Homo sapiens: one gene and its partners. The protein of the gene in region 7 purifies or fractionates together with the protein of the main gene of each other region. This does not show direct contact. Each region holds a gene or a part of one and is shown on either strand. Other genes may lie near its edges. The genes, in order: ZC3H8, CHERP, FCF1, YTHDC2, MYEF2, LYAR and MAGEB2.

Region 1 (4,170 bases), on a different chromosome or scaffold from region 7:
CTTGCTCTTCTCTCTGAAGCCTAATCCTTCTTGCTATCTAAAACGGCAACACCATCCCTCTCAAGATCCCTACCAAAACCTTAAAGTCAATCTTGATTCCTCTCTCACATCCCCATCCAATCTCTGAGGAAATCCAGTTTATTCTATCTTCAACATACCCACGTTTGACCACTTCTTGCCACTAATACAACAATCCAAGCTGCTCTGGCACCCCTACATTCTACTCTCAACACAACTAGAATGACCCTGCTAAAATATTTCAAATGTCACTCTGCTGAAAAACCCTCCAATGGTCTCTTGTCTCATTCAGAGTAAAAGCCAAAGTCCTTATTTCGGCACCTACCAGTTCCTCCATGATTGGGCTCCCCTAACCCTACCCCAGTACCTCGCAGACTTCCAAGTCCCTCTTACTCCACCCCAGCTGTCCTGGCCACTTTGCTCCCCTAACCCAATCACACCAAGCTCACTCCGTCTGAGGACCTTTATACAGACTCCTCTCCACCCCTCTGGACTATGAAACCCCCTCACCTCCTTCAGGTCCCTACACAGATTTTTAAAACTTACCAATGTTATCAGTGAGGCTTTCCTTATCTACCTTCTTAAAATATCTACACCTCCCAGCCGGGCGCGGTGGCTCACGCCTGTAATCCCAGCACTTTGGGAGGCCAAGGCGGGCAGATCACAAGGTCAGGAGATCGAGACCATCCTGTCTAACATGGTGAAACCCCGTCTCTACTAAAAATACGTCGGGCGTGGTGGCAGGCGCCTGTAGTCCCAGCTACTCGGGAGGCTGAGGCAGGAGAATGGTGTGAACCCGGAAGGCAGAGCTTGCAGTGAGCCGAGATCGCGCCACTGCACCCCAGCCTGGGCGACAGAGCCAGACTCTGCTCAAAAAAATAAAAAAAAAACCCACAAAACTACTCCCTCCCTACCATCCCACCAGTGCTTATTTTCCCCTTACCCTTCATTCATTTTCTCAGGGCATTTAGTACCACCTAAAATATGATATATTTATGTATGTCTCCCCCTTCCCCTAATAATGTAAATTCATTAGTACAGAAATTTTCATCTCTTCTTCATTTACTACTATATCCCCAAGGCCGTAGCAGGTGCTCAATACGATTTTTTGAATGAATGAGAAGTATTCCCATCACAAATTACTCGGAAAAAAAACCAGAAACCATATGAGAAAAGACTGATTCATCTGACTGCATAAAACCAAACCACAACATCCCCATTCCTTTTTACATTGAAAAATAATGCCATAGGCAAAGACAAATGACAATTGGGAGTAAAGTATTCGCAGATAAGAGATCCTAGAATGTGAAAAAGACCAAAAAGGAGAAAAATGGGCAAATAATATGGACAGCTCACCATACTTCCATACCATCCTTCACCCATCATTTTGGCAAAATTCCAAGTGTCTTTTATGTATTGCAGTCAAGTTTTGGGGAATGGAGCTTGTGTCCAACACACTTTGAAACTGATAGCTGCTGTTCGGATTTTTAAATGTTGCTATTATCTTTTTTTTGTGTGATGAATTCTTATGTATTTTATAACATATCAATTAGTACCAGTTATTTTTCTTAGTAAATTATATCATCTGCAAGTAATTAGTGTATCTGTCTCTTTCCAATATTTATAGGGCTTATTTTAAAATTTTAGTCATTTTGCATGAGAAGCTTGGTGATAAAATCATGGATCCTGGACATAGCTCTTCCACTTACACTGTGCAATCTCGGCAGGTTATTTAGCCTCTCCGTGCCTCAGTTTTCCCATCTGTAAAACGAGGACGGCATCATCTTCTCTTTAAGTTTGTTTTGAGGATTAAGTGATTTATTTCATGTAAAGCACAAGGTAAAGCTCTGGATGATCAGTTAAGGTAAAATTTGAGATAGAGTGAACAGCTGACCAATATCGAATGGTAAAATCAATCACAACTGGAAATATATCTCAGTTGAGGGAAATAAAAGACGTAGGTTTAAGAACAAAGATGGTGGTTTTTAGCATTTCAAATCACTAGACACTGCTCCAAAAATATAATCTACAAATTAGGGCCATCTGACCAAGAGTCTCACTTGCTTTTCCAACCTAATGGAAATATTAAGTCCAAATGACGTCTGTTGCTTTATTGTGGTCTTTAGGGTCTTTCCATGCAAATCAGTGGACTAATGGCAGAGTATTGCCTATTCTTTACCTTTCAATAAACTTGTGGTTTCATCCTTTCTACAGAAAAGAACCTAGGAGGTGTCAGTGAAAAAGGTCACATCAGTGTCCTCTGGGAGTTTACGGTCTCGTGGAAACAGGCAACAACGGTAAAGACAGACGCTACGGGACCACAGAGGCGGGCTCCTCACCCGCTGCTGTGCAGAGAAAGGGGCGCATCCCGGAGCCTTCTCGCCTCCACCCCGCTCCCCCGCCCAGGCTCTCGACAGCCCCGGCCCTGACGGCCTAAGCCTGAGCCCCGCGTTCAGCTTCTGCTCCCACCCGGACCCCGCACGACCTCTATAGGTCAGACGGTGGCGCCCGGCCGGCCCACGTGCTCCCCACGGGCCCTCGCGACGCGGCCCGGACGTGGCCCCGGACTGCCTCCAATCCAGAAGAAACTAAGAGGCGGAGTCCCGCTGAGCCCCTGCATTCAAAAGATGAAAAGATATGGGATCACCTTTCGTCAGAGTCCGTGGCCGTTTTGCCGAGGGCCGGGTTGGGGGGTTTTGAGAAAAGATTCTCAAAATCCATGACCCAGACAGGTCCTCCCTTTCGCGAGCCGGGAAGCTACAGAGTAACAACCCGAGAGAGTGACAACCCGGACGCGACGAGACGGACCCAGAGCCGCGCCAGGGCCACAGGCTCCGCCCCGCGCAGCCTCACCTGCCCCGCGCATGCGCTGCACCGCCCTCCGCGACTCTGGGCAGGCCGGGTCTCTCCCTGCCTCCTTCGCCTCGGCTCTGCGCAGGCGCCGCCGTGGTTGCCCTTCTGTAAGCTTTTTCGTCCTTTACCTCAGATAGTAGAATTTTGTTTATTTTATTTATTTATTTGTTTGTTTGTTTGTTTATTTAAAGACAGAGTCAAGCTCTGTCGTCCAGGCTGGACTGCAGTGGCGTGATCTCGGCTCACTGCAACCTCCGCCTCCCGGGTTCAAGCAAGTCTCCTGCTTCAGCCTCCTGAGTAGCTGGGACTACAGGTGTCTGCCACCACGCCCAGCTAATTTTTGTATTTTTAGTAGAGACGGGATTTCACCATGTTGGCCAGGATGGTCTCGATCTCTTGATCTCGTGATCCGCCCGCCCCAGCCTTCCAAAGTGCTGGGATTACAGGCGTGAGCCACCGCGCCCGGCCCCAGCCCAGAATTTTTAAAATTAGTTGTTAGGATTCTGCTTTCACCTTGGTGAAAACTCTTCCATCAAAATCACAGTATTTCTAAGGGATGGTAGTAACAGCTAACATTTATCTGAGCACTCCACTACTATTCCTTAGAAATAGCGTTTCACATGTTAGCTAACTTAATCCTCACAACAGCCCTGTAAAAGATGTTCTATTACCATTCACAGTTTTGAAATGAATAAACAGATGTGTAGTCAGGTAATGTAACTTGTAGGGTCTCTACAATTGAATGGGAATTAAAATGAATACACAAGTAACCTCAAGACAGAAAAGTCCGTTAAAAAGTACCAAATACTAAGAGAATTCAGAAGAGGGAAAAAATTGCATCCAGTTGGGAAGGCTTCTTGAGAAGGGAGTATTTGAGCTGGGTCTTGAGATATTTCCATAGGAAAAGAGGAAGTGGGCATTCCAAGTAGAGAGAATTGTATGAAGGCAGGAAAATAGAGCATGCTGTTGCAGAACAGGAAATTGCTCAGTTTTGCTCAATGTAATGCCATTTAAGGGACCTGTAGAAAGGAAGGCTCAAACCCTAGGTTGGGCCAGTGATAGAGAACCTGACTTGCTTCTGTAAGTGAAGGGAGTGTTTGATTCTTGGCATGAATCAGGATCCCTTTACCGATTAGTGAAGGGAACTATTTGAAGCCAGACATCTTCCCCAGGGAAATTCTACTTTCCCATGTTGTTTATATTGTAGGCCATCACCTATGGAACATGAATCATTACTAAAAATTCAGAGAAAAAATTGAATTAAGGAGATAAAAACTAGAATTACCCCCTCTTTAGCAG
Region 2 (3,500 bases), on a different chromosome or scaffold from region 7:
TCTGTCGCCCAGGCTGGAGTGCAGTGGCGTGATCTCAGCTCACTGCAAGCTCCGCTTCCTGGGTTCACGCCATTCTCCTACCTCAGCCTCCTGAGTAGCTAGGACTACAGGCGCACGCAACCATGCCCAGCTACTTTTTTGTATTTTTAGTAGAGACGGGGTTTCACCGTGTTAGCCAGGATGGTCTCGATCTCCTGACCTTGGGATCCACCCACCTCAGCCTCCCAAAGTGCTGGGATTACAGGCGTGAGCCACCGCACCCGGCCTAGCAAAGGATTTTAAAATTACATTCTGATCAAAGAAGATTTGTTGTAGGAATATGAGGATTGTATAGAATAGAAAATAACAGATGTGGGGAAATGACCTTTTAATTAGATACAGTAAAGATGTCTAATCAAATTCAGTGTGGATAGAAATTCTTCAGCAAACCAAGAAGGCAGAAGTGAGGCCTGTTTCTTGTAAAGCTTTGAAAAGGACAGATGTGTGTCATGTTCAAGGTCGAAACCTCCCCTCGCCCTGTCCCCTTCCTGGAAGCCAGTGATAGTCATGGTTTTAGTGGGTCCTGAAGCGATCATCCACTGGGCACTAAAAGCGGTAGCCTGGTTTGCTCTGGGGTAGTGTGGAGAGGAGACAGCGCCTCCTGCTGCCAGGCCTGCTCTAACTGCCTGTCACTTGGATTTAGATGACAGCAAGCCTCCCATCCAGATGCCTGGCTCTTCAGAGTACGAAGCTCCAGGAGGGGTCCAGGATCCTGCAGCTGCCGGCCCCCGGGGCCCCGGGCCACACGACCAGATCCCACCAAACAAGCCCCCTTGGTTTGACCAGCCTCACCCCGTGGCTCCTTGGGGCCAGCAGCAGGTATTGATTGGAACCTGGGGTGGGAGCAGATGGGGCACACTTGGCCTGATGGGGTAGCCTCCCCTATGCCAGTTGGTGGGCGTTGAGTGGCTTACTGGGGAACAATGAGGGATATTCTGTGGCAGAGCTTATGCTGGGTTAGTGACAGCCCTGTCTTCCTGTGGCTCCGGGACAGGTCAAGTGACAGGTCTTCACGTCCCTTCCCCGAGCTTTGATGGTTTGGGCTTCTCTGTAGTATAGATCACCATTGTCCTGCGAGTGCAGGGGAGTTTAACGCTGCAAGGCACGGCAGGGTGTTCTGTTTCCTGTCCTCCTTAAACAGGTTAAGCTAGTTGAGTGTCAGTGTTTTGTCATCCTGGAAAGAACAAGGTGCTTTTGTAAGGAAAGGGGGAATGTCAGAAATGTCAGCCGTGTTGCCCCTGGGAGGCCTCAGATGCAGCTTTGCTATGGGTCACATACCCCTGGGCCAAGGCAGGGGCCACCTTATGTGGCACAGCATGGCTGTGAAATGCCCTGCAGCGTGCTGGGTCCACTTTCAGCACTGAGGCACAGCCCCGGGTCTTCCAGGGCGTGACTTTCCCCCTTGCCCGTGGGGCCTGGTTGGCTTCGCAGCGTGGCCTTTCCAGGTGACTCCCTGTCTGCAGGGACAGGTGTAAGGATGGCAAGGAGACTGGCTCTGGACTGAGACTTGGTGGTTGTGGCTTTGAGCCTCCCATCCCCAGCTTCAGGACACGAAATTGAACCTCACAAAAGATTGGACACCCCCATAAAGACAGCTCCCACCTCCAAGTGCTGGCCAGGAGCCAGATGGTGGTGGCTGTTTTGCAGGTACCCTCTGCTGGGGGGGGCAGTTCTTGTCCCTGTTTTGTAGGTGTGGAAACAGGCCCTTAGTGTCTCCAGGCTCAGTCTTTTTGCAGACCAGAGGGTTGGGCTCAGGACAATGGGCACGCCCCTCACTGAGGGTGCCCGCTAGGCCAGCAGTGCATCCTGCAGTCCACACTGAGAAACAGCAGCCTGGCCTGCTTGACTTGGCCATGTGGGGTCTTAACACGTTTAAAAGTAATTTCTCAAGGCAGGAAGATTGCTTGAGGCCAGGAGTTTGGGACCAGCCTGGGCAACAAGGCAAGACTCCATCTCTACAAAGAATAAAAATAAGCTGGCATGGTGGTGCACACCTGTCGTCCCAGCTACACAGTGGTCTGAGGCAGGAAGATTGGTTCAGCCAGGACTTCAGGCTTCATTGAGCTATGGTCATGCCACTGCATTCCAGCCTGGGTGACAGAGTGAGACCTTGTCTCTAAAAAAGAAAAGCAAGGCTGGGCGTGGTGGCTAACGCCTGTAATCCCACACTTTGGGAGGCTGAGGTGGGCAGATCATTTGAGGTCAGGAGTTTGAGACCAGCCTGGCCAACGTGGTGAAACCTCGCCTCTACTAAAGATAAAAAAATAGCCGGGCATGGTGCCAGGCGCCTATAATCCCAGCTACTCGAGAAGCTGAGGCAGGAGAATCACCTGAACCCGGGAGGTGGAAGTTGCAGTGAGCCAAGATCGCGCCACTGCACTCCAGCCTGGGCAACAGAGCGAGACTGTCTCAAATTAAGAAAAAGAAAAACAAGTAGTTCCTGATATTTAATATCTGGCTCTCTGGCTTCTCTTGGAAGCCTGGTGAATGTGGCAGCCTGGGCCAGCCTCCCCTTAGTAGGGGTCAGCGCAGTTACCCAGCTGTGACCCTAGACACCGGCCTTCTCATTGGCCTCTGTGCTCCTCCCCTCCCCTGCCCAAGCTGGAGTTTGCCCTCCTGGCTTTAAGTCTCCAGAGCAGAAGCTGATGAGGGAAGAGCCTCCCGTCTTCAGTCTACAGGAAGATGCTGGCTTGGTTTGAAAGTCCCCAGAAGCAGACCCCAGGACAAGGATGTGTGTGCCGCAGTGTATCTGCCCAGCAGACGGCTTTTGGGGAGAGGGGGAGTGAGGCAGGGCAGGGGGTGTCAGAGTGAGCCCCGCCCCATGGGTGCCTGGGGTGCCCTGAGAAGCGATACCGTCTGTGCCTCTGCACCTGCCCCTGAGGGGCGAGGGAGCTGGCGTTTGTCTGGCAGTGGTAGCGGGGAGCACCTTGTGGCGCGGGCGGCCTGTGTGCGGGTGCAGCGCGCCCCAGCGGCAGAAACAGCCCCGGGACTGAGATGCGGGTGCAGCGGTTGGGTGTCTGGTCATTTTGCAGCAGCATGTGGTGCGGGCTGAGAGCAGGTGCCCAGCATCCTCGCAGGCGTCAGCGTAGGAGGCGCCTCAACGTGGCCAGGGCAGCGCCTCCATGGTCTGAGCCAGCGCTGTGATGCTGCCGAGCGCTGTGATGCTGCCGAGCACTAGGGCCTAGACCACGCAGGGCTCAAGCCTGTCCCTTCCCTTGCAGCCGCCAGAGCAGCCACCCTACCCGCACCACCAGGGCGGCCCACCCCACTGCCCCCCCTGGAACAACAGCCATGAGGGCATGTGGGGCGAGCAGCGCGGTGACCCCGGCTGGAACGGCCAGCGCGACGCGCCCTGGAACAACCAGCCCGACGCCGCCTGGAACAGCCAGTTCGAGGGCCCCTGGAACAGCCAGCACGAGCAGCCGCCCTGGGGCGGGGGCCAGCGCGAGCCACCCTTCCGC
Region 3 (3,500 bases), on a different chromosome or scaffold from region 7:
ATATACAAGAAGAACTAGAGTAGAAGAAAACCCTAAGAAACTAAGATTGTCCCAACCCCAAACTGCAGATTCCCTGTTATAAACATATCTGGGGAAAAAAAACTAAGCTGAACTCTGTCATTATTTTTATATTAATGTAAGTTCCTGATGGGAAAAAAATTATTTATTTTTATTATTTTTTTGAGACAGAGTCTTGCTCTGTTGCCCAGGCTGGAGCGCAGTGGCACGATCTCAACTCACTGCAGCCTCAAACTCCTGGGTTCTAGTTATCCTCCTGGGTTCTAATGATTCTCCCACCTCAGCCTCCCGAGTAGCGAGGACCACAGGTACGCACCACTATGCCCAGCTAATTAAAAAAAAACATTTTTTTTTTGTAGAGATGGGGCTTTGCCATGTTGCCCAGGCTGTCTTGAACTCCTGGGATCAATCATTCCTCCTGTCTTGGGCTCCCAAAGTGCTGGGATTACAGGTGTGAGCCACTGTGCCTGGCTCAGATGAAATAAAATTTAAATGTGAACCACAAGAAACCATGAAATTAGCCAGATAATGTAAATCTGATCACATAAAAATTTTAAAAACTTCTGTTTGACAACTATCAAACAGAAAGCCATATAATAGTTTAAAAAAAAATCATCATCCCTATTTTATAGGTGAGGAACCTGAGACACAAAGAAGTTAACTAAATAGATAGCAAATGGTAAAGCCAACATTTGAACGGAGTCTATTGGGCCAAAGACTGGGAAGAGTGGCACCTAGAAGAGTGGCAAAGATTAAACAGATGAAAATATCCAATATTGGCCGGGCGTAGTGGCTCACGCCTATAATCCCAGCACTTTGGGAGGCTGAGGCAGGCGGATCACCTGAGGTCAGGAGTTCGAGACCAGCCTGGCCAACATGGTGAAACCCGTCTCTACTAAAAATAAAAAAAATAGCTGGGCATGGTGTTGGGCACCTGTAATCCCAGTTACTTGGGAGGCTGAGGCAGGAGGATCAGTTCAACCCAGCAGATGGAGGTTGCAATGAGCCAAGATCGTGCCATTGCACTCTAGCCTGAGTGACAAGAGTGAAACTCCATCTCAAAAAAAAAAAAAAAAAAGAAAATACCCAATATTGAGGAAACAAGTATTCTCATACTAAGTTTGTAGGTATATACATTGGTACAACTATTTGAGGGCAAATTTGCAATACCTATTAAAAATACACAAATCCCTTGATACATAATACAGCTTCCAGACAATGTATCCTAAAGAAATACACTCTTAGGGAGACATATTCATAAGGATATTTACTACAGACTTGTTAATTGGGTAGAACCTGGAAATAACCAAAATACCTAATAAGATACTGGGTTTAAAAAATTATGTATTTAAACAATAGAATAGTATGTAACTTTACACCTGATCTTAGCCAAAAGGCTGAGAAGCAATTATAGTATGTAACTTTATTCATTCTTTATTTTTTTTTGAAGTCTCACTTTGTTGCCCAGGCTGGAGTGCAGTGGCGTAATCTCTGCCTCCCAGGTTCAAGCGATTCTCCTGCCTCAGCCTCCCAAGTAGCTGGGATTACAGGCGCCCTCCACCACGCCCAGCTAATTTTTGTAGTTTTAGTAAAGACAAGGTTTCACCATGTTGGTCAGGCTGGTTTCGAACTCCTGACCTGAAGCAATCCACCTGCCTCGAACTCCCAAAATGATGGGATTATAGGCGTGAGCCACCGTGCCCGGCCATACATAACTTTAAAAAAGAATTCCTGGCCAACATGGCAAAACCCCATCTCTACTAAAAATATAAAAATTAGGGCTGGGTGTGGTGGCTCATGCCCGTAATCTCAGCACTTTGGGAGGCCAAGGCAGGCAGGTCACCTGAGGTCAGGAGTTCAAGACCAGTCTGGTCAACATGGTGAAACCTCATCTCTACTAAAAATACAAAAAAATTAGCTGGGCGTGGTGGCACATGCCTGTAGTCCCAGATACTCAGGAGGCTGAGGCAGGAGAATCACTTGAAGCCTGGAGGCAGAGGTTGCAGTGAGCCGATATTGCACCACTGCACTCCAACCCGGGTAACAGAGTGAGGCTCTGTCTCAAAAAAAAAAAAAAAAAATTAGGTGGGTGTGGTGGAACACACCTGCAATCCCGGCTACTGGGAGGCTGAGGCATGAGAATTGCTTGAACCCGGGAGGCAGAGGCTGTAGTGAGCTGAGATTACACCACTGCACTCCAGCCTGGGTGACAGAGTGACAGCCTGTCTCAAAAAAAAAAAAAAAAACAAACCCCAAAAACTTGGGCAACATGATTGATACCTTGTTTCTACAAAACATAAATAAATAAAATAGCCAGGCATGGTGGCTCTTTCCAGTAGTCTCAGCTACTTGGGAGGCTGTGGCTGCAGGATCACTTGAGACCTGGAGGTTGAGGCTGCTGTAAGCTATTGGCTCAGACCACTGCATTCCAGCTTGGATGACATAGCAAGACCTTGACTCAAAATAAAAGAATGAGGCCCATTTATATATACATGCCATGGAAAAATGTTCAAAATATATAGTTCAATGTAAAAAGCAAGTAGAAATGATTAAAATGTGATCTATCCATACAGTGGAATATTATTTAGTAATAAAAAGAAATGAAGTACTGATACAAACTGTAATATAAATGATCCTTGAAAACAGTACGTTAAATGAAAAAGGACCAAATATTATAAGATTCTATTTTTATGAAATGTCCAGAATAGGGAAATTTATAGAAACAGAAAGTAGATTAGTGGTTGCCTAGAAATAGAGAGAATGGTGAGGGTTGCAGGGTGATGGCTAAGGGTCTCCAGGTTTCTTCCTGGGATAATGGAAGTTCTAAAATTGACTATGGTGATGGATGATGCACAACTCTGTGAATCCACTAGAAGTCACTGAACTGTACACTTTAAAGGGATGAATTGTATAGTTGTAAAGGGAGTCAATTATATTTCAGTAAATCTGTTTTATAAAGCAAAAAATAATACAGGATCCATTTTCTTTTTTTATTTTTTTGAGACGGAGTTTCGCTCTTGCAATGGCACGATCTTGGCTCACTGCAATTTCTGCCTCTGGGGTTCAAGCGATTTTCCTGCATCAGCCTCCCGAGTAGCTGGAATTATAGGGACCTGCCACCACGCCCGGCTAATTTTTTTTGGATTTTTAGTAGAGACAGAGTTTTGCCATGTTGGCCATGCTGGTCTTGAACTCCAGACCTCAGGTAGTCCGCGTGCTTCGGCCTCCCAAAGTGCTGGGATTACAGGCCATTTTCATTAATAAATAAAAGTAACCCTCCATCTCACACAGATTTATGAATTTTTATAATTGCTCCTTTGAGGAAATGCATTATAAGCAACTTCCTTTTTTTCCCCCTTTTGAGACAGGTTCTTGTTCCGTCACCCAGGCTGGAGGGCAGTGACATGGACATAGCTCAGTGCAGCCTCGACCTCCCAGGCTTAAGTGATCCTCCCACCTCAGCCTCCCAAGCAGCTGGGACC
Region 4 (3,500 bases), on a different chromosome or scaffold from region 7:
CCTCAGCCTCCCAATCCACTTCGATTTTCTACAGGCAACTCAAACTCAAAATAACCAAAAATTAATTATTCTCTCCAGTGAAAACACTCTTCCAATTTTCCCTATCTGACTATGGCACTACTGTCCGATTTTTTAAGACAGAAACCTGGATGACATCCTTAACTCCACTCTCTTCCTTACCCCTCACCCCCTACATACACAATCAATCACCAACATTACTTTCTTTAGTATCTCTTGAATTAATTATCTATTTATTTTTATTTCCACCACCACTAAAACAATCCAGACTACTTTCATCTCTCCCTTATTATAGGAAAGTATTAATGAAGAAGCCTCCTACTGGGTCCTCCTACCATCATTTTTGTTCCTGCCAATCCATTCTTCAGAGAGCTGAAAGAATACTATACTCATGTCATCCCACTGTTTATTTTTTTAAAAAAGAGAGAAAACTCAAAATGGTCCTTAAAAACTTGTCCCCAACTTTCAGCTCATTTTTCACTATTCTCTAAACTAAATTCTATCCAAACATCCTCCCTATTCACTCTTGCCTTTAGGCAAATAAGTATACCTGGTTATACTTTCCCTCTGCCTTTTAGAAATGCCTCCCCCTTTATTCACAATTGTCTCAGATTCATTCTTAACAACTCTGGAAACATCCAGTTGTAGCACAAATAACACTGTATTAAAATTGCTTAATTTACTGGACTCCCACATGGACTGCAACATTTGCCCTACCTCCAGCTTTACCTATCAGGCTATGGTTTATTTATCACTATCCGTAACATGTGCACAGGGAAGACTTTTGATAAACATTTGTTGAAAAATGGCAATGAAAATTTTTGCAGTTCTGGCCTTCATCTCCAATAATATACTATTTGTTATTTTATTTTTTTTGAGACAGTGTCTGGCTCTGTCGCTCCGGCTGGAGTAGAGTGGTATGATCACAGCTCACGGCAGCTGCAGCCTCGACCTCCCAGGATCAGATGATCCTCCCACCTTAGCCTCCCAAGTAGCTAGGCCCACAGGCCTGTGCCACCACACCTAGCTGATTTTTTAATTTTTTGTAGAGACAAGGTCTCACTATGATGCCCAGGCTAGTCTCAGACTCTTAGACTCAAGTGATCCTTCCACCTCAGGCTCCCAAAGTGCTGGGATTACAAGCATAAGCCACTACACCCAGCCTTACCCACAATAATATACTATTAATAGCAGGGACATCCAGCTTAATGTATCAAGCCACTATTGGTCATAAGAAAACAACTGACATAACAACAACAAAGCCCTCATGGGCATTCTATGAAGTTACAAAGTAAAGAAATAATGCACATGAGTCTTCAGTATATGAGGCATTCTTTGAAAGTCAGCATTTCATGTTTTCCTGCTAATTATAATAAAATGCAAGATAAATATTTACTGAAAATGATACTTTTTAATGTTATCTTTTGAAAATTAAAAAGTAACCCAAACACTTAGTAAAATAACCAAATTACAAAAAAAATAAAATTGTCTCCTTACTCCAAGAACCCCACAAATCCTCCTTCTCAGAGTTAACAATCATTCATTGTTTTTTAATGTTTCTCCCAGACTTCTCGATGCATTTGTGTCAAAATACATACACAAACACACATATATTTTTCTTACCACAAAAGACTACTAGATGCATGTTCTGTATCCTTTCAATTAACAATGCATCCTGAAAACTCATTCCATATAAGAACACACAGATCTACATTTTTCCTTTTAACAGCTACCCAGAAAGCCACTGTGTGGCTATAATTTATTTAATCACTTCAGTATTGATGGACATCACACTGTTCCCAGACTTTACATTATTATAAACAATGCTTCAAAGAACAGTCTTAAACATACATCTTTGCACACGTGTGCAAGCATACTCAGGATAAATTATGACAAGTGGAATCTATGGTCAAAGAGTAGATTTGGATAAATAGTTTCAAATTGCACTCTGAAGAAGTCACACCAATCTATACTCCCATCAGTAAAATATGAAAGACTATTGGCCCATGTTTTTCCTCTATGTTGTACATACTGTTAAACATTTTCATCAATGCCCATCTGAGATTCAAAAAATAATACCTCATTAATTTGCATTTATTTAGATACATATTAGGTAGTATATGTGAGGTTAATGTATTAGTAGGACATGCATATTTTTTATTTTGGTAAATTGCCTATTTGTGCCCTTTATCCATTTTAACTGGATTATTGGCCTTTAGTTGATTTCAAAGAGCTTCTTTATATAATAAGGAAATTAGCTCTTTGTCCTACATTGCATATGTTTAGAATTTTTGGTTTTGTTTTTTAAGCTTCTTACATCTGAATGTACATTTAACTAGGCAAAAGTTTTTAATTTTAACATAACCTACATTCAACTTTTAAGGAAGTATCAAAATGGCTTGCTTTGCAAAAATAATATAAAAATTTTAACATGAAAACTACTATTTTATTGAACATGGAATATATGATAAATGTGTAATGCATATAAAAACGTTTCCATTTTACAGGCAATTGAATGAATATACATTAAATATACATTACCTGCCTTTCCGCTGTATGGCACTAGCTTTGGAAATCCATACCATTTTTAACATTGTAACAAAATTCAGAGCATCAAAGGATTTCTGTAATATTTAAACCATCTTTATGTTAGAATATAAAAGGTATTTAAAAGGTAATAGCAAGAATGTTATCAACATATTTTAACATGCCAAAAGTTTAATTCAAAGTCCTCTCTTGATTAAATAATTAAAACAGCAGTACTGATTTTTAATAAACCCTGATTTTCTGGTTACAAACATACTAAGAAAAAAGGATTTAAAAACTAAACTCAGAAGAGCGTAAAACTTCTCCATTCTGTGCTCTGCTGAGCTATTTGTTGCTCTCTGCCACAGCTGGATAATGGCAGCCAGTTCTCATAAGACATCAAGATTGGAGAGAACGGATCTATTCCCTTGAGGTCACTTTCCTATCAGATTTGCATCACTGTGCAGAATAAGAAGATCAAGGAAAGACATTTTCTGAAATACTTTTCAGGGACCTAACCTTGTGGAGTAAGAATAACAATCAATAATCTTATCCCAAAGAGAAATATTTTTAACCACTTCCACTTTACTTCCTGCTGAGCTACTAACAAAGTTAGCCTTTCCCGAACGTTACAATGAAGAAAGTAAAAAAGAACCATTGTTATCCACATACTTATTCAAATAACCTACAGTGAAAATTTATTGTAGAGAAATATTTTAAAGAAATACAAGCCTAACTAGAACATGTATTTCAGTCACTCGGTACTTATACTTTCCCTTTCATAAAATAACTGCATAGAGCAAATAAAAATGTTTGCATAATAGTTTATAAAATTTTTAGAAAACAGCTTATTTGGTTTTTAATATGACATTACATTTGTCAATTTTGTATGTTAAATAACTTTTGACACTACCCATGTTTTAAATTTCAGTTACTTAATAAATAAGTAACACCTA
Region 5 (3,500 bases), on a different chromosome or scaffold from region 7:
AAAGTTGCTCCTGAAACATGATCAGAGAAATCCCCAGATTCCTTAGTTGGAAAGAAGGTTCCTGGATTGGCTGTTAACACATAGTTTAGAAATATCAAAAAAGTAAAATTCAAACAGTTAATTTAGAAATTTCAAACAATAATCAAACAGAAAGGCTTTGCTCAATTATCAAGGTTTCTCAAATTATAGCAAGACACATTAACGTATAAGAACAAAGTATTACTATACTACGATAACTACTCTTGCAAAGTCTTTGCAAGCACTCAAATATTACTGAATAAATTCTAGTAAAATTTAAACCTACTTATTCCAGATCCTACTGGACCCATGTTAGAAGATCCTATTCTTCCTGCAAACCCTCCAATCATTGCACTGCCTAAACAAGGATGGAAAGATAATATACTAATTAATTTTAAATAATCATACTTTAAAATTCCCAAGGTACTATGTGCTCTGATTTACAATAAATGAAAAGCATAAAGTCTTCTGAAAATAGAGTTCAAATATGTAAGATGTTGAAAAAGAGAGCTAGCATATTAAAATCCTTAAAGTGTTTTCTTCAGGTAATAAGTTGTATAAAACATTATGATTTTCTGATTTTTCACAAAAAAAGAGAAACCAAATTTCAAAAATTATAGCCTACAAAAAGAAAAGGAGAAGTATGCAGCCAGCCCTACCAAGTCTACCAAAGGAATCTCCAAAGCCTCGATTTATTCCAATATCACCACGTCCAAAATCTCGCTCCATGCTACTAGTCATCGCACCACGGTACAGCTCTGAAAAAATTGTGCAACAAATTAACCTTTTCAAATATATCAATACATGTTGAAAACATTCAGGAATGTATCTAAATTATGAAAAGACGCGTAAGTCACAAATATAAAATAGTCTGTCATTTACCCAATTTACCTCACATGCCACACATATCATCCCCATTCCCCAGGCCTGTCCTTATCCCCTAGTGCCTATATGCCTTCTGAAGACATTTTTAGCACACATTCCTAAGTTATAGGGGGGAAATATTAATAATAGGGAAAACTAAATATGCACACACTTCCCACTGCATACATTTACCTACCTCCCATTCGGCCAACTCCTCCAAATCCTCCCATGCTATTCATTGCTTCCAGACCACCAAACCCTATTCCTATGGAATAAAGATTAATTTTGAGATCCAACTGTCAGTCATGTAGCTGAAAGGTACGTTTTGTAAATGTTAAATCTCACCAGTAAGCTCTTCATCCACCCTACCTTGTGCAGCTACTTCTTAACACATCACCTTCCTTTAAGTATGTACCAGGCTCAATTTCTGCTAGCAGCCTTTAGAACATGAGCCAACAATAAACCATGACTTTTTTTTCATGGAATTCTCAACACAGTTTCTAGTTTATTAAAAATGGTGATGGGTACATACAAAAAAACAAATCTTTATACATACCTCCTCCAATTCTATTCATTCCTCCAAAACCTGGACCATCCATTCCCATACCTCAAATAAAATACACAGTATGTACTTTAAGTATATTTTATTTTTATGACTAAAAGATGATATAATGCATTATAGCAAAATAGATACCACTGGTATAACCACAATGAAACACTAGAGAAGCGGTAGGGTACAGGAGGCATGGTTTAAAGTGCTATGCCATAGCAGCTGTCTAATCATGAATCTTCAAAAGGGTTTCTTTGAACATTTATCAGACAAGAAAGCAAAATTCACTAGTAACACCCACAACATTCAGTTAGAGAATATCTTGAACTAGGTAATCATTCACTTTTTTTTCCACAATAAACACAGAAATACTACTATCAATGATTTTTTTTTTCCAGCATAGACACAGAAATAGCATTACAGCAGATTTAGAGATCAGGCCAGAATGTAAGGACTCTCTAAACATCGCAGTTAAAAGAGCAGTAAAAATTTTCAAAATATAAATAGTATGTATTTAGGAGAGGGTAGGTAGGTGTGAGAGTCTAAGGGTAAGGGAGAAAACTTGTTTGGATCAGAATGATTATGATAATGAGCCTCATAATTTAAAGTGTGACTACAGCATCTTGACAAAATAGGAATCTGATAGCATTTATTAGTCCATCAATTAAAACAGTAATTCACAAAGTATGGTCCAGGGACTCTTGAGGGTTCAATAGGTCAAAACTATTTAAGTCACCAAATACTACTAAGACATTATTTGATGTTTTACCCTCATTCTCTTGAGTTTAAGGTGTAATTTTCCAAACACTATATGATGTACAATATCACAAAAAACTAAAGTGCAGAAACAGATATAACAGCAATATTAAGCCAAACATTAAAAAGATGTGTGGAAAGGTAAAACAATGCCACTCTCCTCACCAATTTCTTTTTTGCATTGAAAAATAGTTTATTTTCTTAAAACTTTTATGTATGTTAACATGTAATGAGTTTATCATTTTTTAATATGTAATTTTTTTAATTTCTAATTTTTCATTTATAATACAGTAAATACTGGTAATTATAACTACATAAACAAAGCATTTTCGGGTTCTCAACAAATTTTAAAATATAAAAGGGTCCTAACACCAAAGTTTAAAAACCAATCTCTAAAAATGAACTGTGAGTTCTTCCAGGTGAGCAGCCAAATAACTACCTGAAAAGCCACCTTCCCAAATGGATAAACAGATTTTAGCTGCCTATGATATGGTAGCATTTCAGCTACTCCATAAATACTGTTCATAGATGATATATTCTCCTTCTGCCTTCAAGACATTTCAAAATCCAAAATGCTAAAAGGCTAGCTACAACATAGCTGGCCCCAAAGAAACCCTCCTGACTTCTGCCTATCTCTTTCATGTTAGCTGTGCTCAAGGTTTCATTCCTTTTTCAGAATGAAGTGACACCGTAAATATCTAACTATTAATTAGAGTCCTTTAAACATTATTACAGACCACATCAATGGAGGCTTTATTAGCTAGCATATGTATCATTTAAAAAGAAAAGAGGAAGTTAGAATACTCACCACCTGGACCTAAATTTCCCATTACTCCACCTATGTTCAACTGGCTGGCACTAATAGGCTGTCCACCCGGACCAAGTCCCATCCCAATGCCTCCAAGACCACCTAAAACAAAAATGAGAACAATCATTACAAAGATCCATATATGATTAACTAATTGGCAATAAAATTTTTTAAAAAGCTATATACCTGTAGTAGTATCTGTAAAATTTCTGCAAATTTTCATATAAAAGCACTGGTTCTTGTTTTTGTCTAGAAAGTAGCACACTGAAGCCCGACTATAAAACCATTTATTAATGAGAAGTGTTTTATGAAATAAAACATGATATAATACAAAGTACACCTTATACCCCACTTAAAGGTACACTGAGAGGAATAATAAAATACCTAGAGGATTTTGAATAATATCATATCACCTTATATATGGCACACATATCTGAAAATGAGTATCTTGCCCAAATTTGTAGACCCACTTAAAATTTGATAATTACTTTTTAAATGGTTCAA
Region 6 (2,977 bases), on a different chromosome or scaffold from region 7:
GGGCAACAGTGAGACCCTGTCTCGAAAAATAAAAATAAAATACAGTAACACATTAAATTGTACACCTGAACTACATAAAATGTTGATTTGTAAAAAAAAAAAAAAAAAAAGTTATCCATTAAGATAATTTAGAAAACAAAAAAATCTTTAGGCTCTAGGGCTAGGTAAAGAGTTGTTAGCACAATCCATAAGATAAATTGATAAATTGAACTTTATCAAAATAAAAACCATTTGCCCTAAAAAGACTCTGTTATGATGAAAAAACAAGCAAAAAGACTGAAAAAAAATTCACAAACTGTTATGTCCCACAAAGGAGTACTATTTAGAATAAATTTAAAAACTAAAATCTCAACAGTTAAAAAAAAAAAAAACCCACAAAAACAACAACCAAAAAAACCCCAAACAACTCAAATTAGAAAATAGGGGAAAAAAATTTAAAAAAAGAGAGCAGACATTTCAACAAAAACATATACAGATAGCAAATATGCACAGAAGAAGGTGCTCAACAACATTAGTCATTAGGGCCACACAAATTCAAACCACAATGAGCGGTTACCACACATCTATCAGAATGGCGAAAATACAACACAGTGGCAACGCCTAATATTGACCATGATGTGGAGAAACTAGATCCTTTACACACTGCTACTGGGAATATAAAATGTGTACAGAGACTCCTGAAACAGCTGACAGTTTTTTCCTTTTTAAATTTTTGTGGGTACACAGCAGGTGTATATGGGGCACGTGAGATATTTTGATACAGACATGCAATGTATGATACTTACATCAGAGTAAATGGGGTATCCATCACCTCAAGCATTTATCCTTTTGTGTTACAAACAATCCAATTATACTCTAGTTATTTTAAAATGTACAATTAAATTATTATTGACTACAGCCACCCTGTTGTGTTATGAAATACTAGATCTTATTCATTCTATTTTCTTGATACCCATTAACCATCCCCACCTCTCCCACAGCCTCCCACCACCCTTTCCAGTCTCTGGTAACCATCCTTTTACTCTCTATCTCCATGAGTTGGCAACTGTTTTGATTTTTAGATCCCACAAATAAGTGAAAACATGCTATGCTTGTCTTCCTGTGCTTGGCTTATTTCACTTAGCATAATGACTTCCAGTTCCATCCACGTTGCTGCAAACGACAGGATCTCATTCTTTTTATGGCTGAATAGTACTCCGCTGTGTACATGCACCACATTTTCTTTACCCATTCATCTGCTGCTGGACACATAGGTTGCTCCAATCTTGGTTATTGTAAATAGTGCTGCAACAAACACGGGAGTGCAGGTATCTCTTCAACACAGGGATTTCCTTTCTTCTGAATATATACCCAAACAGTGGGGCTGCTGGATTGGACGGGAGCTCTATTCTTAGGTTTCTGAGGAACCTCCAAGCGGTTCTCCATAGTGGTTGTACTAATTTACATTCCCACCAACAGTGCACCAGCGTTCCTTTTTCTCCACATCCTCGCCAGCATTAGTTATTGAGCTGGTGGTTTCTTAGAAAAGAAAGAATATGCAACTACTGTATGACACAGCATTGAACATTCGCTTCAGAAAAACTGACTTAGTTCACACAGAAACCTGCACATCAATGTTTACTGCAGCTTTATTCATTAATAACCAGAGACTAGAAACCACCCAGGTGTCCCTCCACAGGTGAATGATGAAAGGACTGTGATGCACGCACAGCACGGGATACTCCTCACCAATAAGATGAATATTGGTCAGTTCAGCAACCTGGGTGAATCTCCAGAGAAAAACGCTGAGCGAAGAGTCAGTCTCAAAAGGTTACATACTGTATGATTCCATTCATAGAACATTCGGAGATTCCAGAAATGAAGAACAGATTAGTGATTGCCAGAGGCTAAGGAGGGGGTGGGGGTGAGAGGGAAGTGGCTGTGGCTACAAGAGGGCAGCAGGAGGCAGCCTTGCGCAATGGCGATGGAAATGGAAGCGTATCCATGTCAACATCCCGGCTGAGATGCTGTACTACAGTTGTGTAAAGTGTTATCCTGGGTGGCAACAAGGTAAAGGGTACGCGGATACATAAGGACGCCTGAGTCTCCATTATTTCTTACAACTGCATGTGAGTCTACAAGGATCTCAAAACAAAAAATGTAACAACAACAACAAAAATAACCATTCCAGTTGTCCCCCTTGATCTGCAGGGGACAGTTCCCAGACCCCCAGTGGATGCCTGAAATCACAATGGTACTGAACCCCTATATATACTGTCTTTCCCTAAATATTCATTCATGCCTATGACAATGCTCCACTTATAAATGAGGCACAGTAAAAGATTATCAATAACTAATAATAAAATAGAACAATTTTACAATACACTATAATAAAAGTTATGTGAATGTGGTCTCTCTGTGTCTCTCTAAATATCTTATTGTCCTATCCTCACCCTTCTTGTGGTGAAGAAGGCATACAGCAGGACAGCAAGAGATCTCGCCATGCTGCTCAGAACAGCATGCAATGGAAAACTTATCAATTGTTTATTTCTGGAATTTTCCATCCCACAGATATGGGGACACTACTGTTTACTAAGTTGAGAAGGGGGTTTTAAGCTTAGAGATCTAACCCAATGCTGGCAGTCACTGAACTCTGCTAATAAAGCTGCAGGCCCATTTGAGTCTTTGGACCTGTTCTGAACTGCAGGATCCTGGGGGTTGGGGGAGGTGGCAGAGAGATGACGACTTGCCACCTCCCGACAGGTATGAGTGCTTCAGGCCTGAAGAAGCAGGAGAGAAGCTTTGTGTAAGAGACAGCATTTCAGAGGGCCCGTGAAGGCCAGGGACTGGATTCTGAGGTTGAGGATACAAGCAAGGAGACCCCAGAAACAGGCCCAGAGATGGGCAGGGGCACAGTTCAGGGGACTTCTAAGAGAACAGTGAAAGGCAGGGGCAAGAGAGTTGGGGAGGAGCGAAAGGGAACCGGGTCTCAGAAAGC
Region 7 (4,133 bases):
TGCCAAGTGAGGAGATGAGAAGAGACTCTCAAATTCATCTCCCCAAGGAGTTCTGGGCTGGGATTTGCAAGGAGATCATGGAGGGCGAGGGGCTGGAGAACTGAGGTTGTTGATTCGTTGGGGTAAAGGGGATGAAATCATCAGAATGTGGAAACTGCGTTTTTTTTTTTTTAGTCAGCTCCTGTGGGGTCTTTTGGACCAGCTGATGTCAGTAGGGTCCTTTAGAGCAGCTGGCATCAGTGGGGTCCTTCAGACCAGCTGAGTCATTAGAATCATCAGTATGCAGGACCTTAAGGAATATCTCAAAGAAAAAAAGTTTCATTATGTTAAAATTGTTATCTATAGAGCAATTAAGGGCAACTATAATCTAGTAACAGGATCTACATGATTCTGGGATAATAGGCACCAAACTACTATGAGGAAGCAGGTCAGAGAGCAGCTGACTTCATGATTAATGCTGAATGTTCTGCAAGCTTGGCGTATCTTCATTTATCTCCCTTCCCTCTTCCCTGATTAATTTTATACAGTTCATAGGGGCAGTTTCAAAACCACCCACCCCAGAACAGAGGAGCCCACAAATTCCACCAATGCTGTCACCCTTGGGGAGCCCAGAAGAGAATTATGAGGTGGAGAAATCCCATCAATATGCCTCGTGTGTTTCACAGAGGTGAAGACCTTGGACTAGTGGAAATGGCCCTAGGTCAAAGAGACAAAACCCACGCCCTAACAGGAATCAAGGTGAGGATCCTAAGTGTTACGAGGGGGCTCTCCCCCTTGCAACACCAGCAGAGGGGGCCAAACAGAGCCCCTCGCCATTGTTAGCACCGAGAGGCCCCAAAATAAGTATCTCTGAATCCCCTTCATTCCACCTGTATAGTCTCGGGGAAGGAAGGGCCTTTGTCTGAAGAGGGTGACCCCAGTTGTGCAGAGAGAGAGTCTTGGCTTTCACGGGAATCAAGGTGAGGACTCTGAGGGCGGATGAGAAGACCTCTCCCCAAAAAAGGCACATTCACAGAGCCCTGCCGCTGCTGTCAGGCCTGTGAGGCCCAGGCAGGGGTGGCCTGTTTGGCACGCTTAGATTTCCACAGTGGGGGCTGAGGGAGGTGGGGGTATTGTTTGGAGGCTGGCGGATTTGGGTCAGCACGCATATTCGTCCCAGGCTGCTAGATACTGAGGTGAGGACCCCTAGTGGAGACGAAGGGACCAGCAACGCTAGAACAGTGACGTCCGGTAGCGTCCAGCCGTCAGCCCTCAGACGCCACGGGCTGCCGGATGTGAGTCATCCTGACTTCCGCTTTGAAAAAAAAGACCCGAGCGGATGTGGCTCATCCTGACTTCCGCTTTGGAGGCGAGGACCCGAGCGAGTGTAGGGGGTGCGGCGTCTGGTCAGCCAGGGGTGAATTCTCAGGACTGGTCGGCAGTCAAGGTGAGGACCCTGAGTGTAAACTGAAGAGACCACCCCCACCTGTAACAAAGAGGGCCCCACTAAGTCCCGCTTCTGCATTTGGTCCTGAGAGGCTCCGGTAAAGCCGTCCGGCAATGTTCCACCTGGAAAGTTCCAGGGCAGGGGAAGGGTGGGGGGAGGGGCAGTCGCGGGGGAAGGAGGTTTGGACGCAGGGAATAGGCCTCATTCTGCACGTAGGGTGGGTGTAGGCCCTAACTGAAATCAATTTGAGGGCCCTAAATGTGGACTGAAGAGAACATCTCCTACCCTTAACAAAGGTGGCCTCACTAAGTCTCGTCCCTGAAGACGGCTCTGGGAGGCCCCAGCAAAGCTGTGCCTGGAAAGTCTCAGGGAGGGGAGGGCCTTGAACCTAGGAAGCAGCCCTGCTTCTGCTCATATGGCATCAACCTAAAACCTAACTGGGGTTAAGGTGAGGACTCTGAGTATTAATGAGCGGACCTCTACCCAAAAGAGGAGTCATGCTGGGCAGTTCCCAGGCCGAGGTGACACTGGGTTTTAGATGGTCCCAGGCTGACATGACAAATGCAGAGCAACCTGACTTCCTCTCCCGGGACTAAAGAAGTTGAGGGCTACATCCAAGACCCACATCTGCTGCCAGCAATAGGAAGGTCAGGGCAAAGCTAGCAAGCTGAGATGCTCTCTAGTTTCCTCTGGAGGTGGTCTCAGGGAGGTGAGGGTCTTGGTGTAATGGGGTAGGTCTAATGCGACAGAGAGGCCCAGTCTCTAACAGGAAGCAAGGATGTGACACTGAGTGATGAGGAGGGGACTCCAACCAGAAAGAAGTGCCATATAGAGCCCACTCTTGTTGTCAGACCAGGGAGACCTGAGCATGGCATGTTGAGTTGTACTCACTCTCCCCAAGACATCTCAGAGAAGTGAACGACCCCATTAAAGAGGGCAGCCTGGCCGGGCGCGGTGGCTCACGCCTGTAATCCCAGCACTTTGGGAGGCCGAGACAGGCGGATCACGAGGTCAGGAGATCGAGACCATCCTGGCTAACACGGTGAAACCCTGTCTCTACTAAAAATACCAAAAAAAAAATTAGCGGGGAGCGGTGGCGGGCGCCTGTAATCCCAGCTACTCGGGAGGCTGAGGCAGGAGAATGGTGTGAACCTGGGAGGCGGAGTTTGCAGTGAGCCGAGATAGAGCCACTGCAGTCCGGCCTAGGCGAAAGGGCGAGACTCCGTCTCTTAAAAAAAAAAAAAAAAAAGGCAGCTTGAGGTCAGCAGAGGGAGGGTTTCCAGGTTGTGCCAGATGTTATGATAAGAACTCTGACGACTGCAGGGGGCTCCCACCCCATATTAGTGGGAGCCACACAATCCTCAGTACTGTCAGCTCTGAGAGACCCCAGGCAGAAATGTGAAACAGAGGTGCCCATCAGTTCCCACTCAAGGGTAACAGGGAAATGAGAGTTTTAATCTGAGGGTGGTGATCACTTGTCAACAGAAGTAATGTACTAATTGGTCCATTCTGGCATTACTATAAATACCCAAGACTGGGTAATTTACAAAGAAAAGAGGTTTAATTGGCTCACAGTTCTGCAGGCTGTACAGGAAGCATGATGCTGGCATTTGCTCAGCTTCTGGGAGCAGGGCTCAGGAAATTTACAATCATGGCAGAAGGGGAAGGGGAAGCAGACATGTTACATGGCCAGAGCAGGATCAAGAGGCCAGGGGAGGCGCTACACACTTTTAAATGACCAGATCTCATGAGAAGTCATCGTTAAGGGGAATGGTGCTAAACCATTCATGAAAAACCTGCCCTCATGATCCAGTCATCTCCCACCAGGCTCCACCTCCAACATTGAGGATTACAGTTAGACATGAGATTTGGTGAGGATACAGATCCAAACCATATCAGGGAAGAATCTTAGACCCTCTCATGAGTCAAATTTAGAGGCTGAGTTGGGACTGTATGTGGGACCATCTATCACAGGGCAGTTATCTGCCTGCCACAGCTTTTACTTTTGGGAAGACCACATTTGGTCAGATAAGGCCACCCTCACTTCCTCCTATGGGTTCTCAGGGATGTTCACTCTTACCATGACGACATAGGCCTCAGTTCAATAAAAAGGAGAGCTCCTCTACCAGGAGTCAAATTGAGGAATCTGAGAATTCAAGGAACCACTGAACCCTTAACAGTGGAGACATCAAAGAATCCAGTCCAACCCTTTATTTTCAGCCCTAGAAAGCTCAGGAAAGGGTTATCAGGTTTAGTGTCCCCCTCTCTTTTTTATATAAGATCTAAGAGAGGTGAGATTCTTAGTCTGACGGTGTAGCCACCACTCAGCAGAAGGGGGCTGGTGCCAAGCCCTACATGAAGCCAAGGTGGGGACCTTGAATGAGAGCTGAAGACTCTAATGATTCCAAGACATCAAAGACCCCACTGAACTCTCAGCACTGGGTGTCACTTCTCAGGGTGGTGGTTGAGGCACCCCTTCAATTTCTTCTCATGAGTCCCAGGGTGCTTTGAGGTGTCAAATTCACAGTAGCGGAAGGGAGTGGCTCAGGCCCTGCCAAGACTTCATATGATAATCCTAAAAGTTAACTGATAAAACCCCAAACACCAGAAGACAGGAGGCCGCACTGCCAGTACCTCCTGTCACCATAGTAAGCCCAAGGAAGGGCTGACAGAATGCAGTCTGAAACTCACTGTAGGGGTTCTGTGG

The links.
Region 1: the proteins of MAGEB2 (region 7) and ZC3H8 purify together in Homo sapiens (co-immunoprecipitation; 2 studies listed by BioGRID and IntAct, with this or other methods). This does not show direct contact.
Region 2: the proteins of MAGEB2 (region 7) and CHERP purify together in Homo sapiens (co-immunoprecipitation; 2 studies listed by BioGRID and IntAct, with this or other methods). This does not show direct contact.
Region 3: the proteins of MAGEB2 (region 7) and FCF1 purify together in Homo sapiens (co-immunoprecipitation; 2 studies listed by BioGRID and IntAct, with this or other methods). This does not show direct contact.
Region 4: the proteins of MAGEB2 (region 7) and YTHDC2 purify together in Homo sapiens (co-immunoprecipitation; 2 studies listed by BioGRID and IntAct, with this or other methods). This does not show direct contact.
Region 5: the proteins of MAGEB2 (region 7) and MYEF2 purify together in Homo sapiens (co-immunoprecipitation; 2 studies listed by BioGRID and IntAct, with this or other methods). This does not show direct contact.
Region 6: the proteins of MAGEB2 (region 7) and LYAR purify together in Homo sapiens (co-immunoprecipitation; 2 studies listed by BioGRID and IntAct, with this or other methods). This does not show direct contact.

Annotation. Positions count from the first base shown.
Region 1 is NC_000002.12:112,252,243-112,256,412, forward strand, and holds the start of ZC3H8 (zinc finger CCCH domain-containing protein 8), read right to left. Parts: upstream 2,801-4,170; 5' UTR 2,740-2,800; coding exon 2,666-2,739; intron 1-2,665.
Region 2 is NC_000019.10:16,525,438-16,528,937, reverse strand, and holds part of CHERP (calcium homeostasis endoplasmic reticulum protein), read left to right. Parts: intron 1-682; coding exon 683-858; intron 859-3,260; coding exon 3,261-3,500. UniProt on the Homo sapiens protein: Involved in calcium homeostasis, growth and proliferation.
Region 3 is NC_000014.9:74,719,644-74,723,143, reverse strand, and holds part of FCF1 (rRNA-processing protein FCF1 homolog), read right to left. Parts: intron 1-3,500. UniProt on the Homo sapiens protein: Part of the small subunit (SSU) processome, first precursor of the small eukaryotic ribosomal subunit.
Region 4 is NC_000005.10:113,555,194-113,558,693, reverse strand, and holds part of YTHDC2 (3'-5' RNA helicase YTHDC2), read right to left. Parts: intron 2,643-3,500; coding exon 2,560-2,642; intron 1-2,559. UniProt on the Homo sapiens protein: 3'-5' RNA helicase that plays a key role in the male and female germline by promoting transition from mitotic to meiotic divisions in stem cells.
Region 5 is NC_000015.10:48,150,796-48,154,295, forward strand, and holds part of MYEF2 (myelin expression factor 2), read right to left. Parts: intron 3,099-3,500; coding exon 2,997-3,098; exon of another isoform or gene 1,512-2,996; intron 1,490-1,511; coding exon 1,439-1,489; intron 1,148-1,438; coding exon 1,079-1,147; intron 777-1,078; coding exon 678-776; intron 377-677; coding exon 305-376; intron 1-304. UniProt on the Homo sapiens protein: Transcriptional repressor of the myelin basic protein gene (MBP). Binds to the proximal MB1 element 5'-TTGTCC-3' of the MBP promoter. Its binding to MB1 and function are inhibited by PURA.
Region 6 is NC_000004.12:4,270,178-4,273,154, forward strand, and holds part of LYAR (cell growth-regulating nucleolar protein), read right to left. Parts: intron 1-2,977. UniProt on the Homo sapiens protein: Plays a role in the maintenance of the appropriate processing of 47S/45S pre-rRNA to 32S/30S pre-rRNAs and their subsequent processing to produce 18S and 28S rRNAs. Also acts at the level of transcription regulation.
Region 7 is NC_000023.11:30,214,230-30,218,362, forward strand, and holds the start of MAGEB2 (melanoma-associated antigen B2), read left to right. Parts: upstream 1-1,333; 5' UTR 1,334-1,426; intron 1,427-4,133. UniProt on the Homo sapiens protein: May enhance ubiquitin ligase activity of RING-type zinc finger-containing E3 ubiquitin-protein ligases. Proposed to act through recruitment and/or stabilization of the Ubl-conjugating enzyme (E2) at the E3:substrate complex.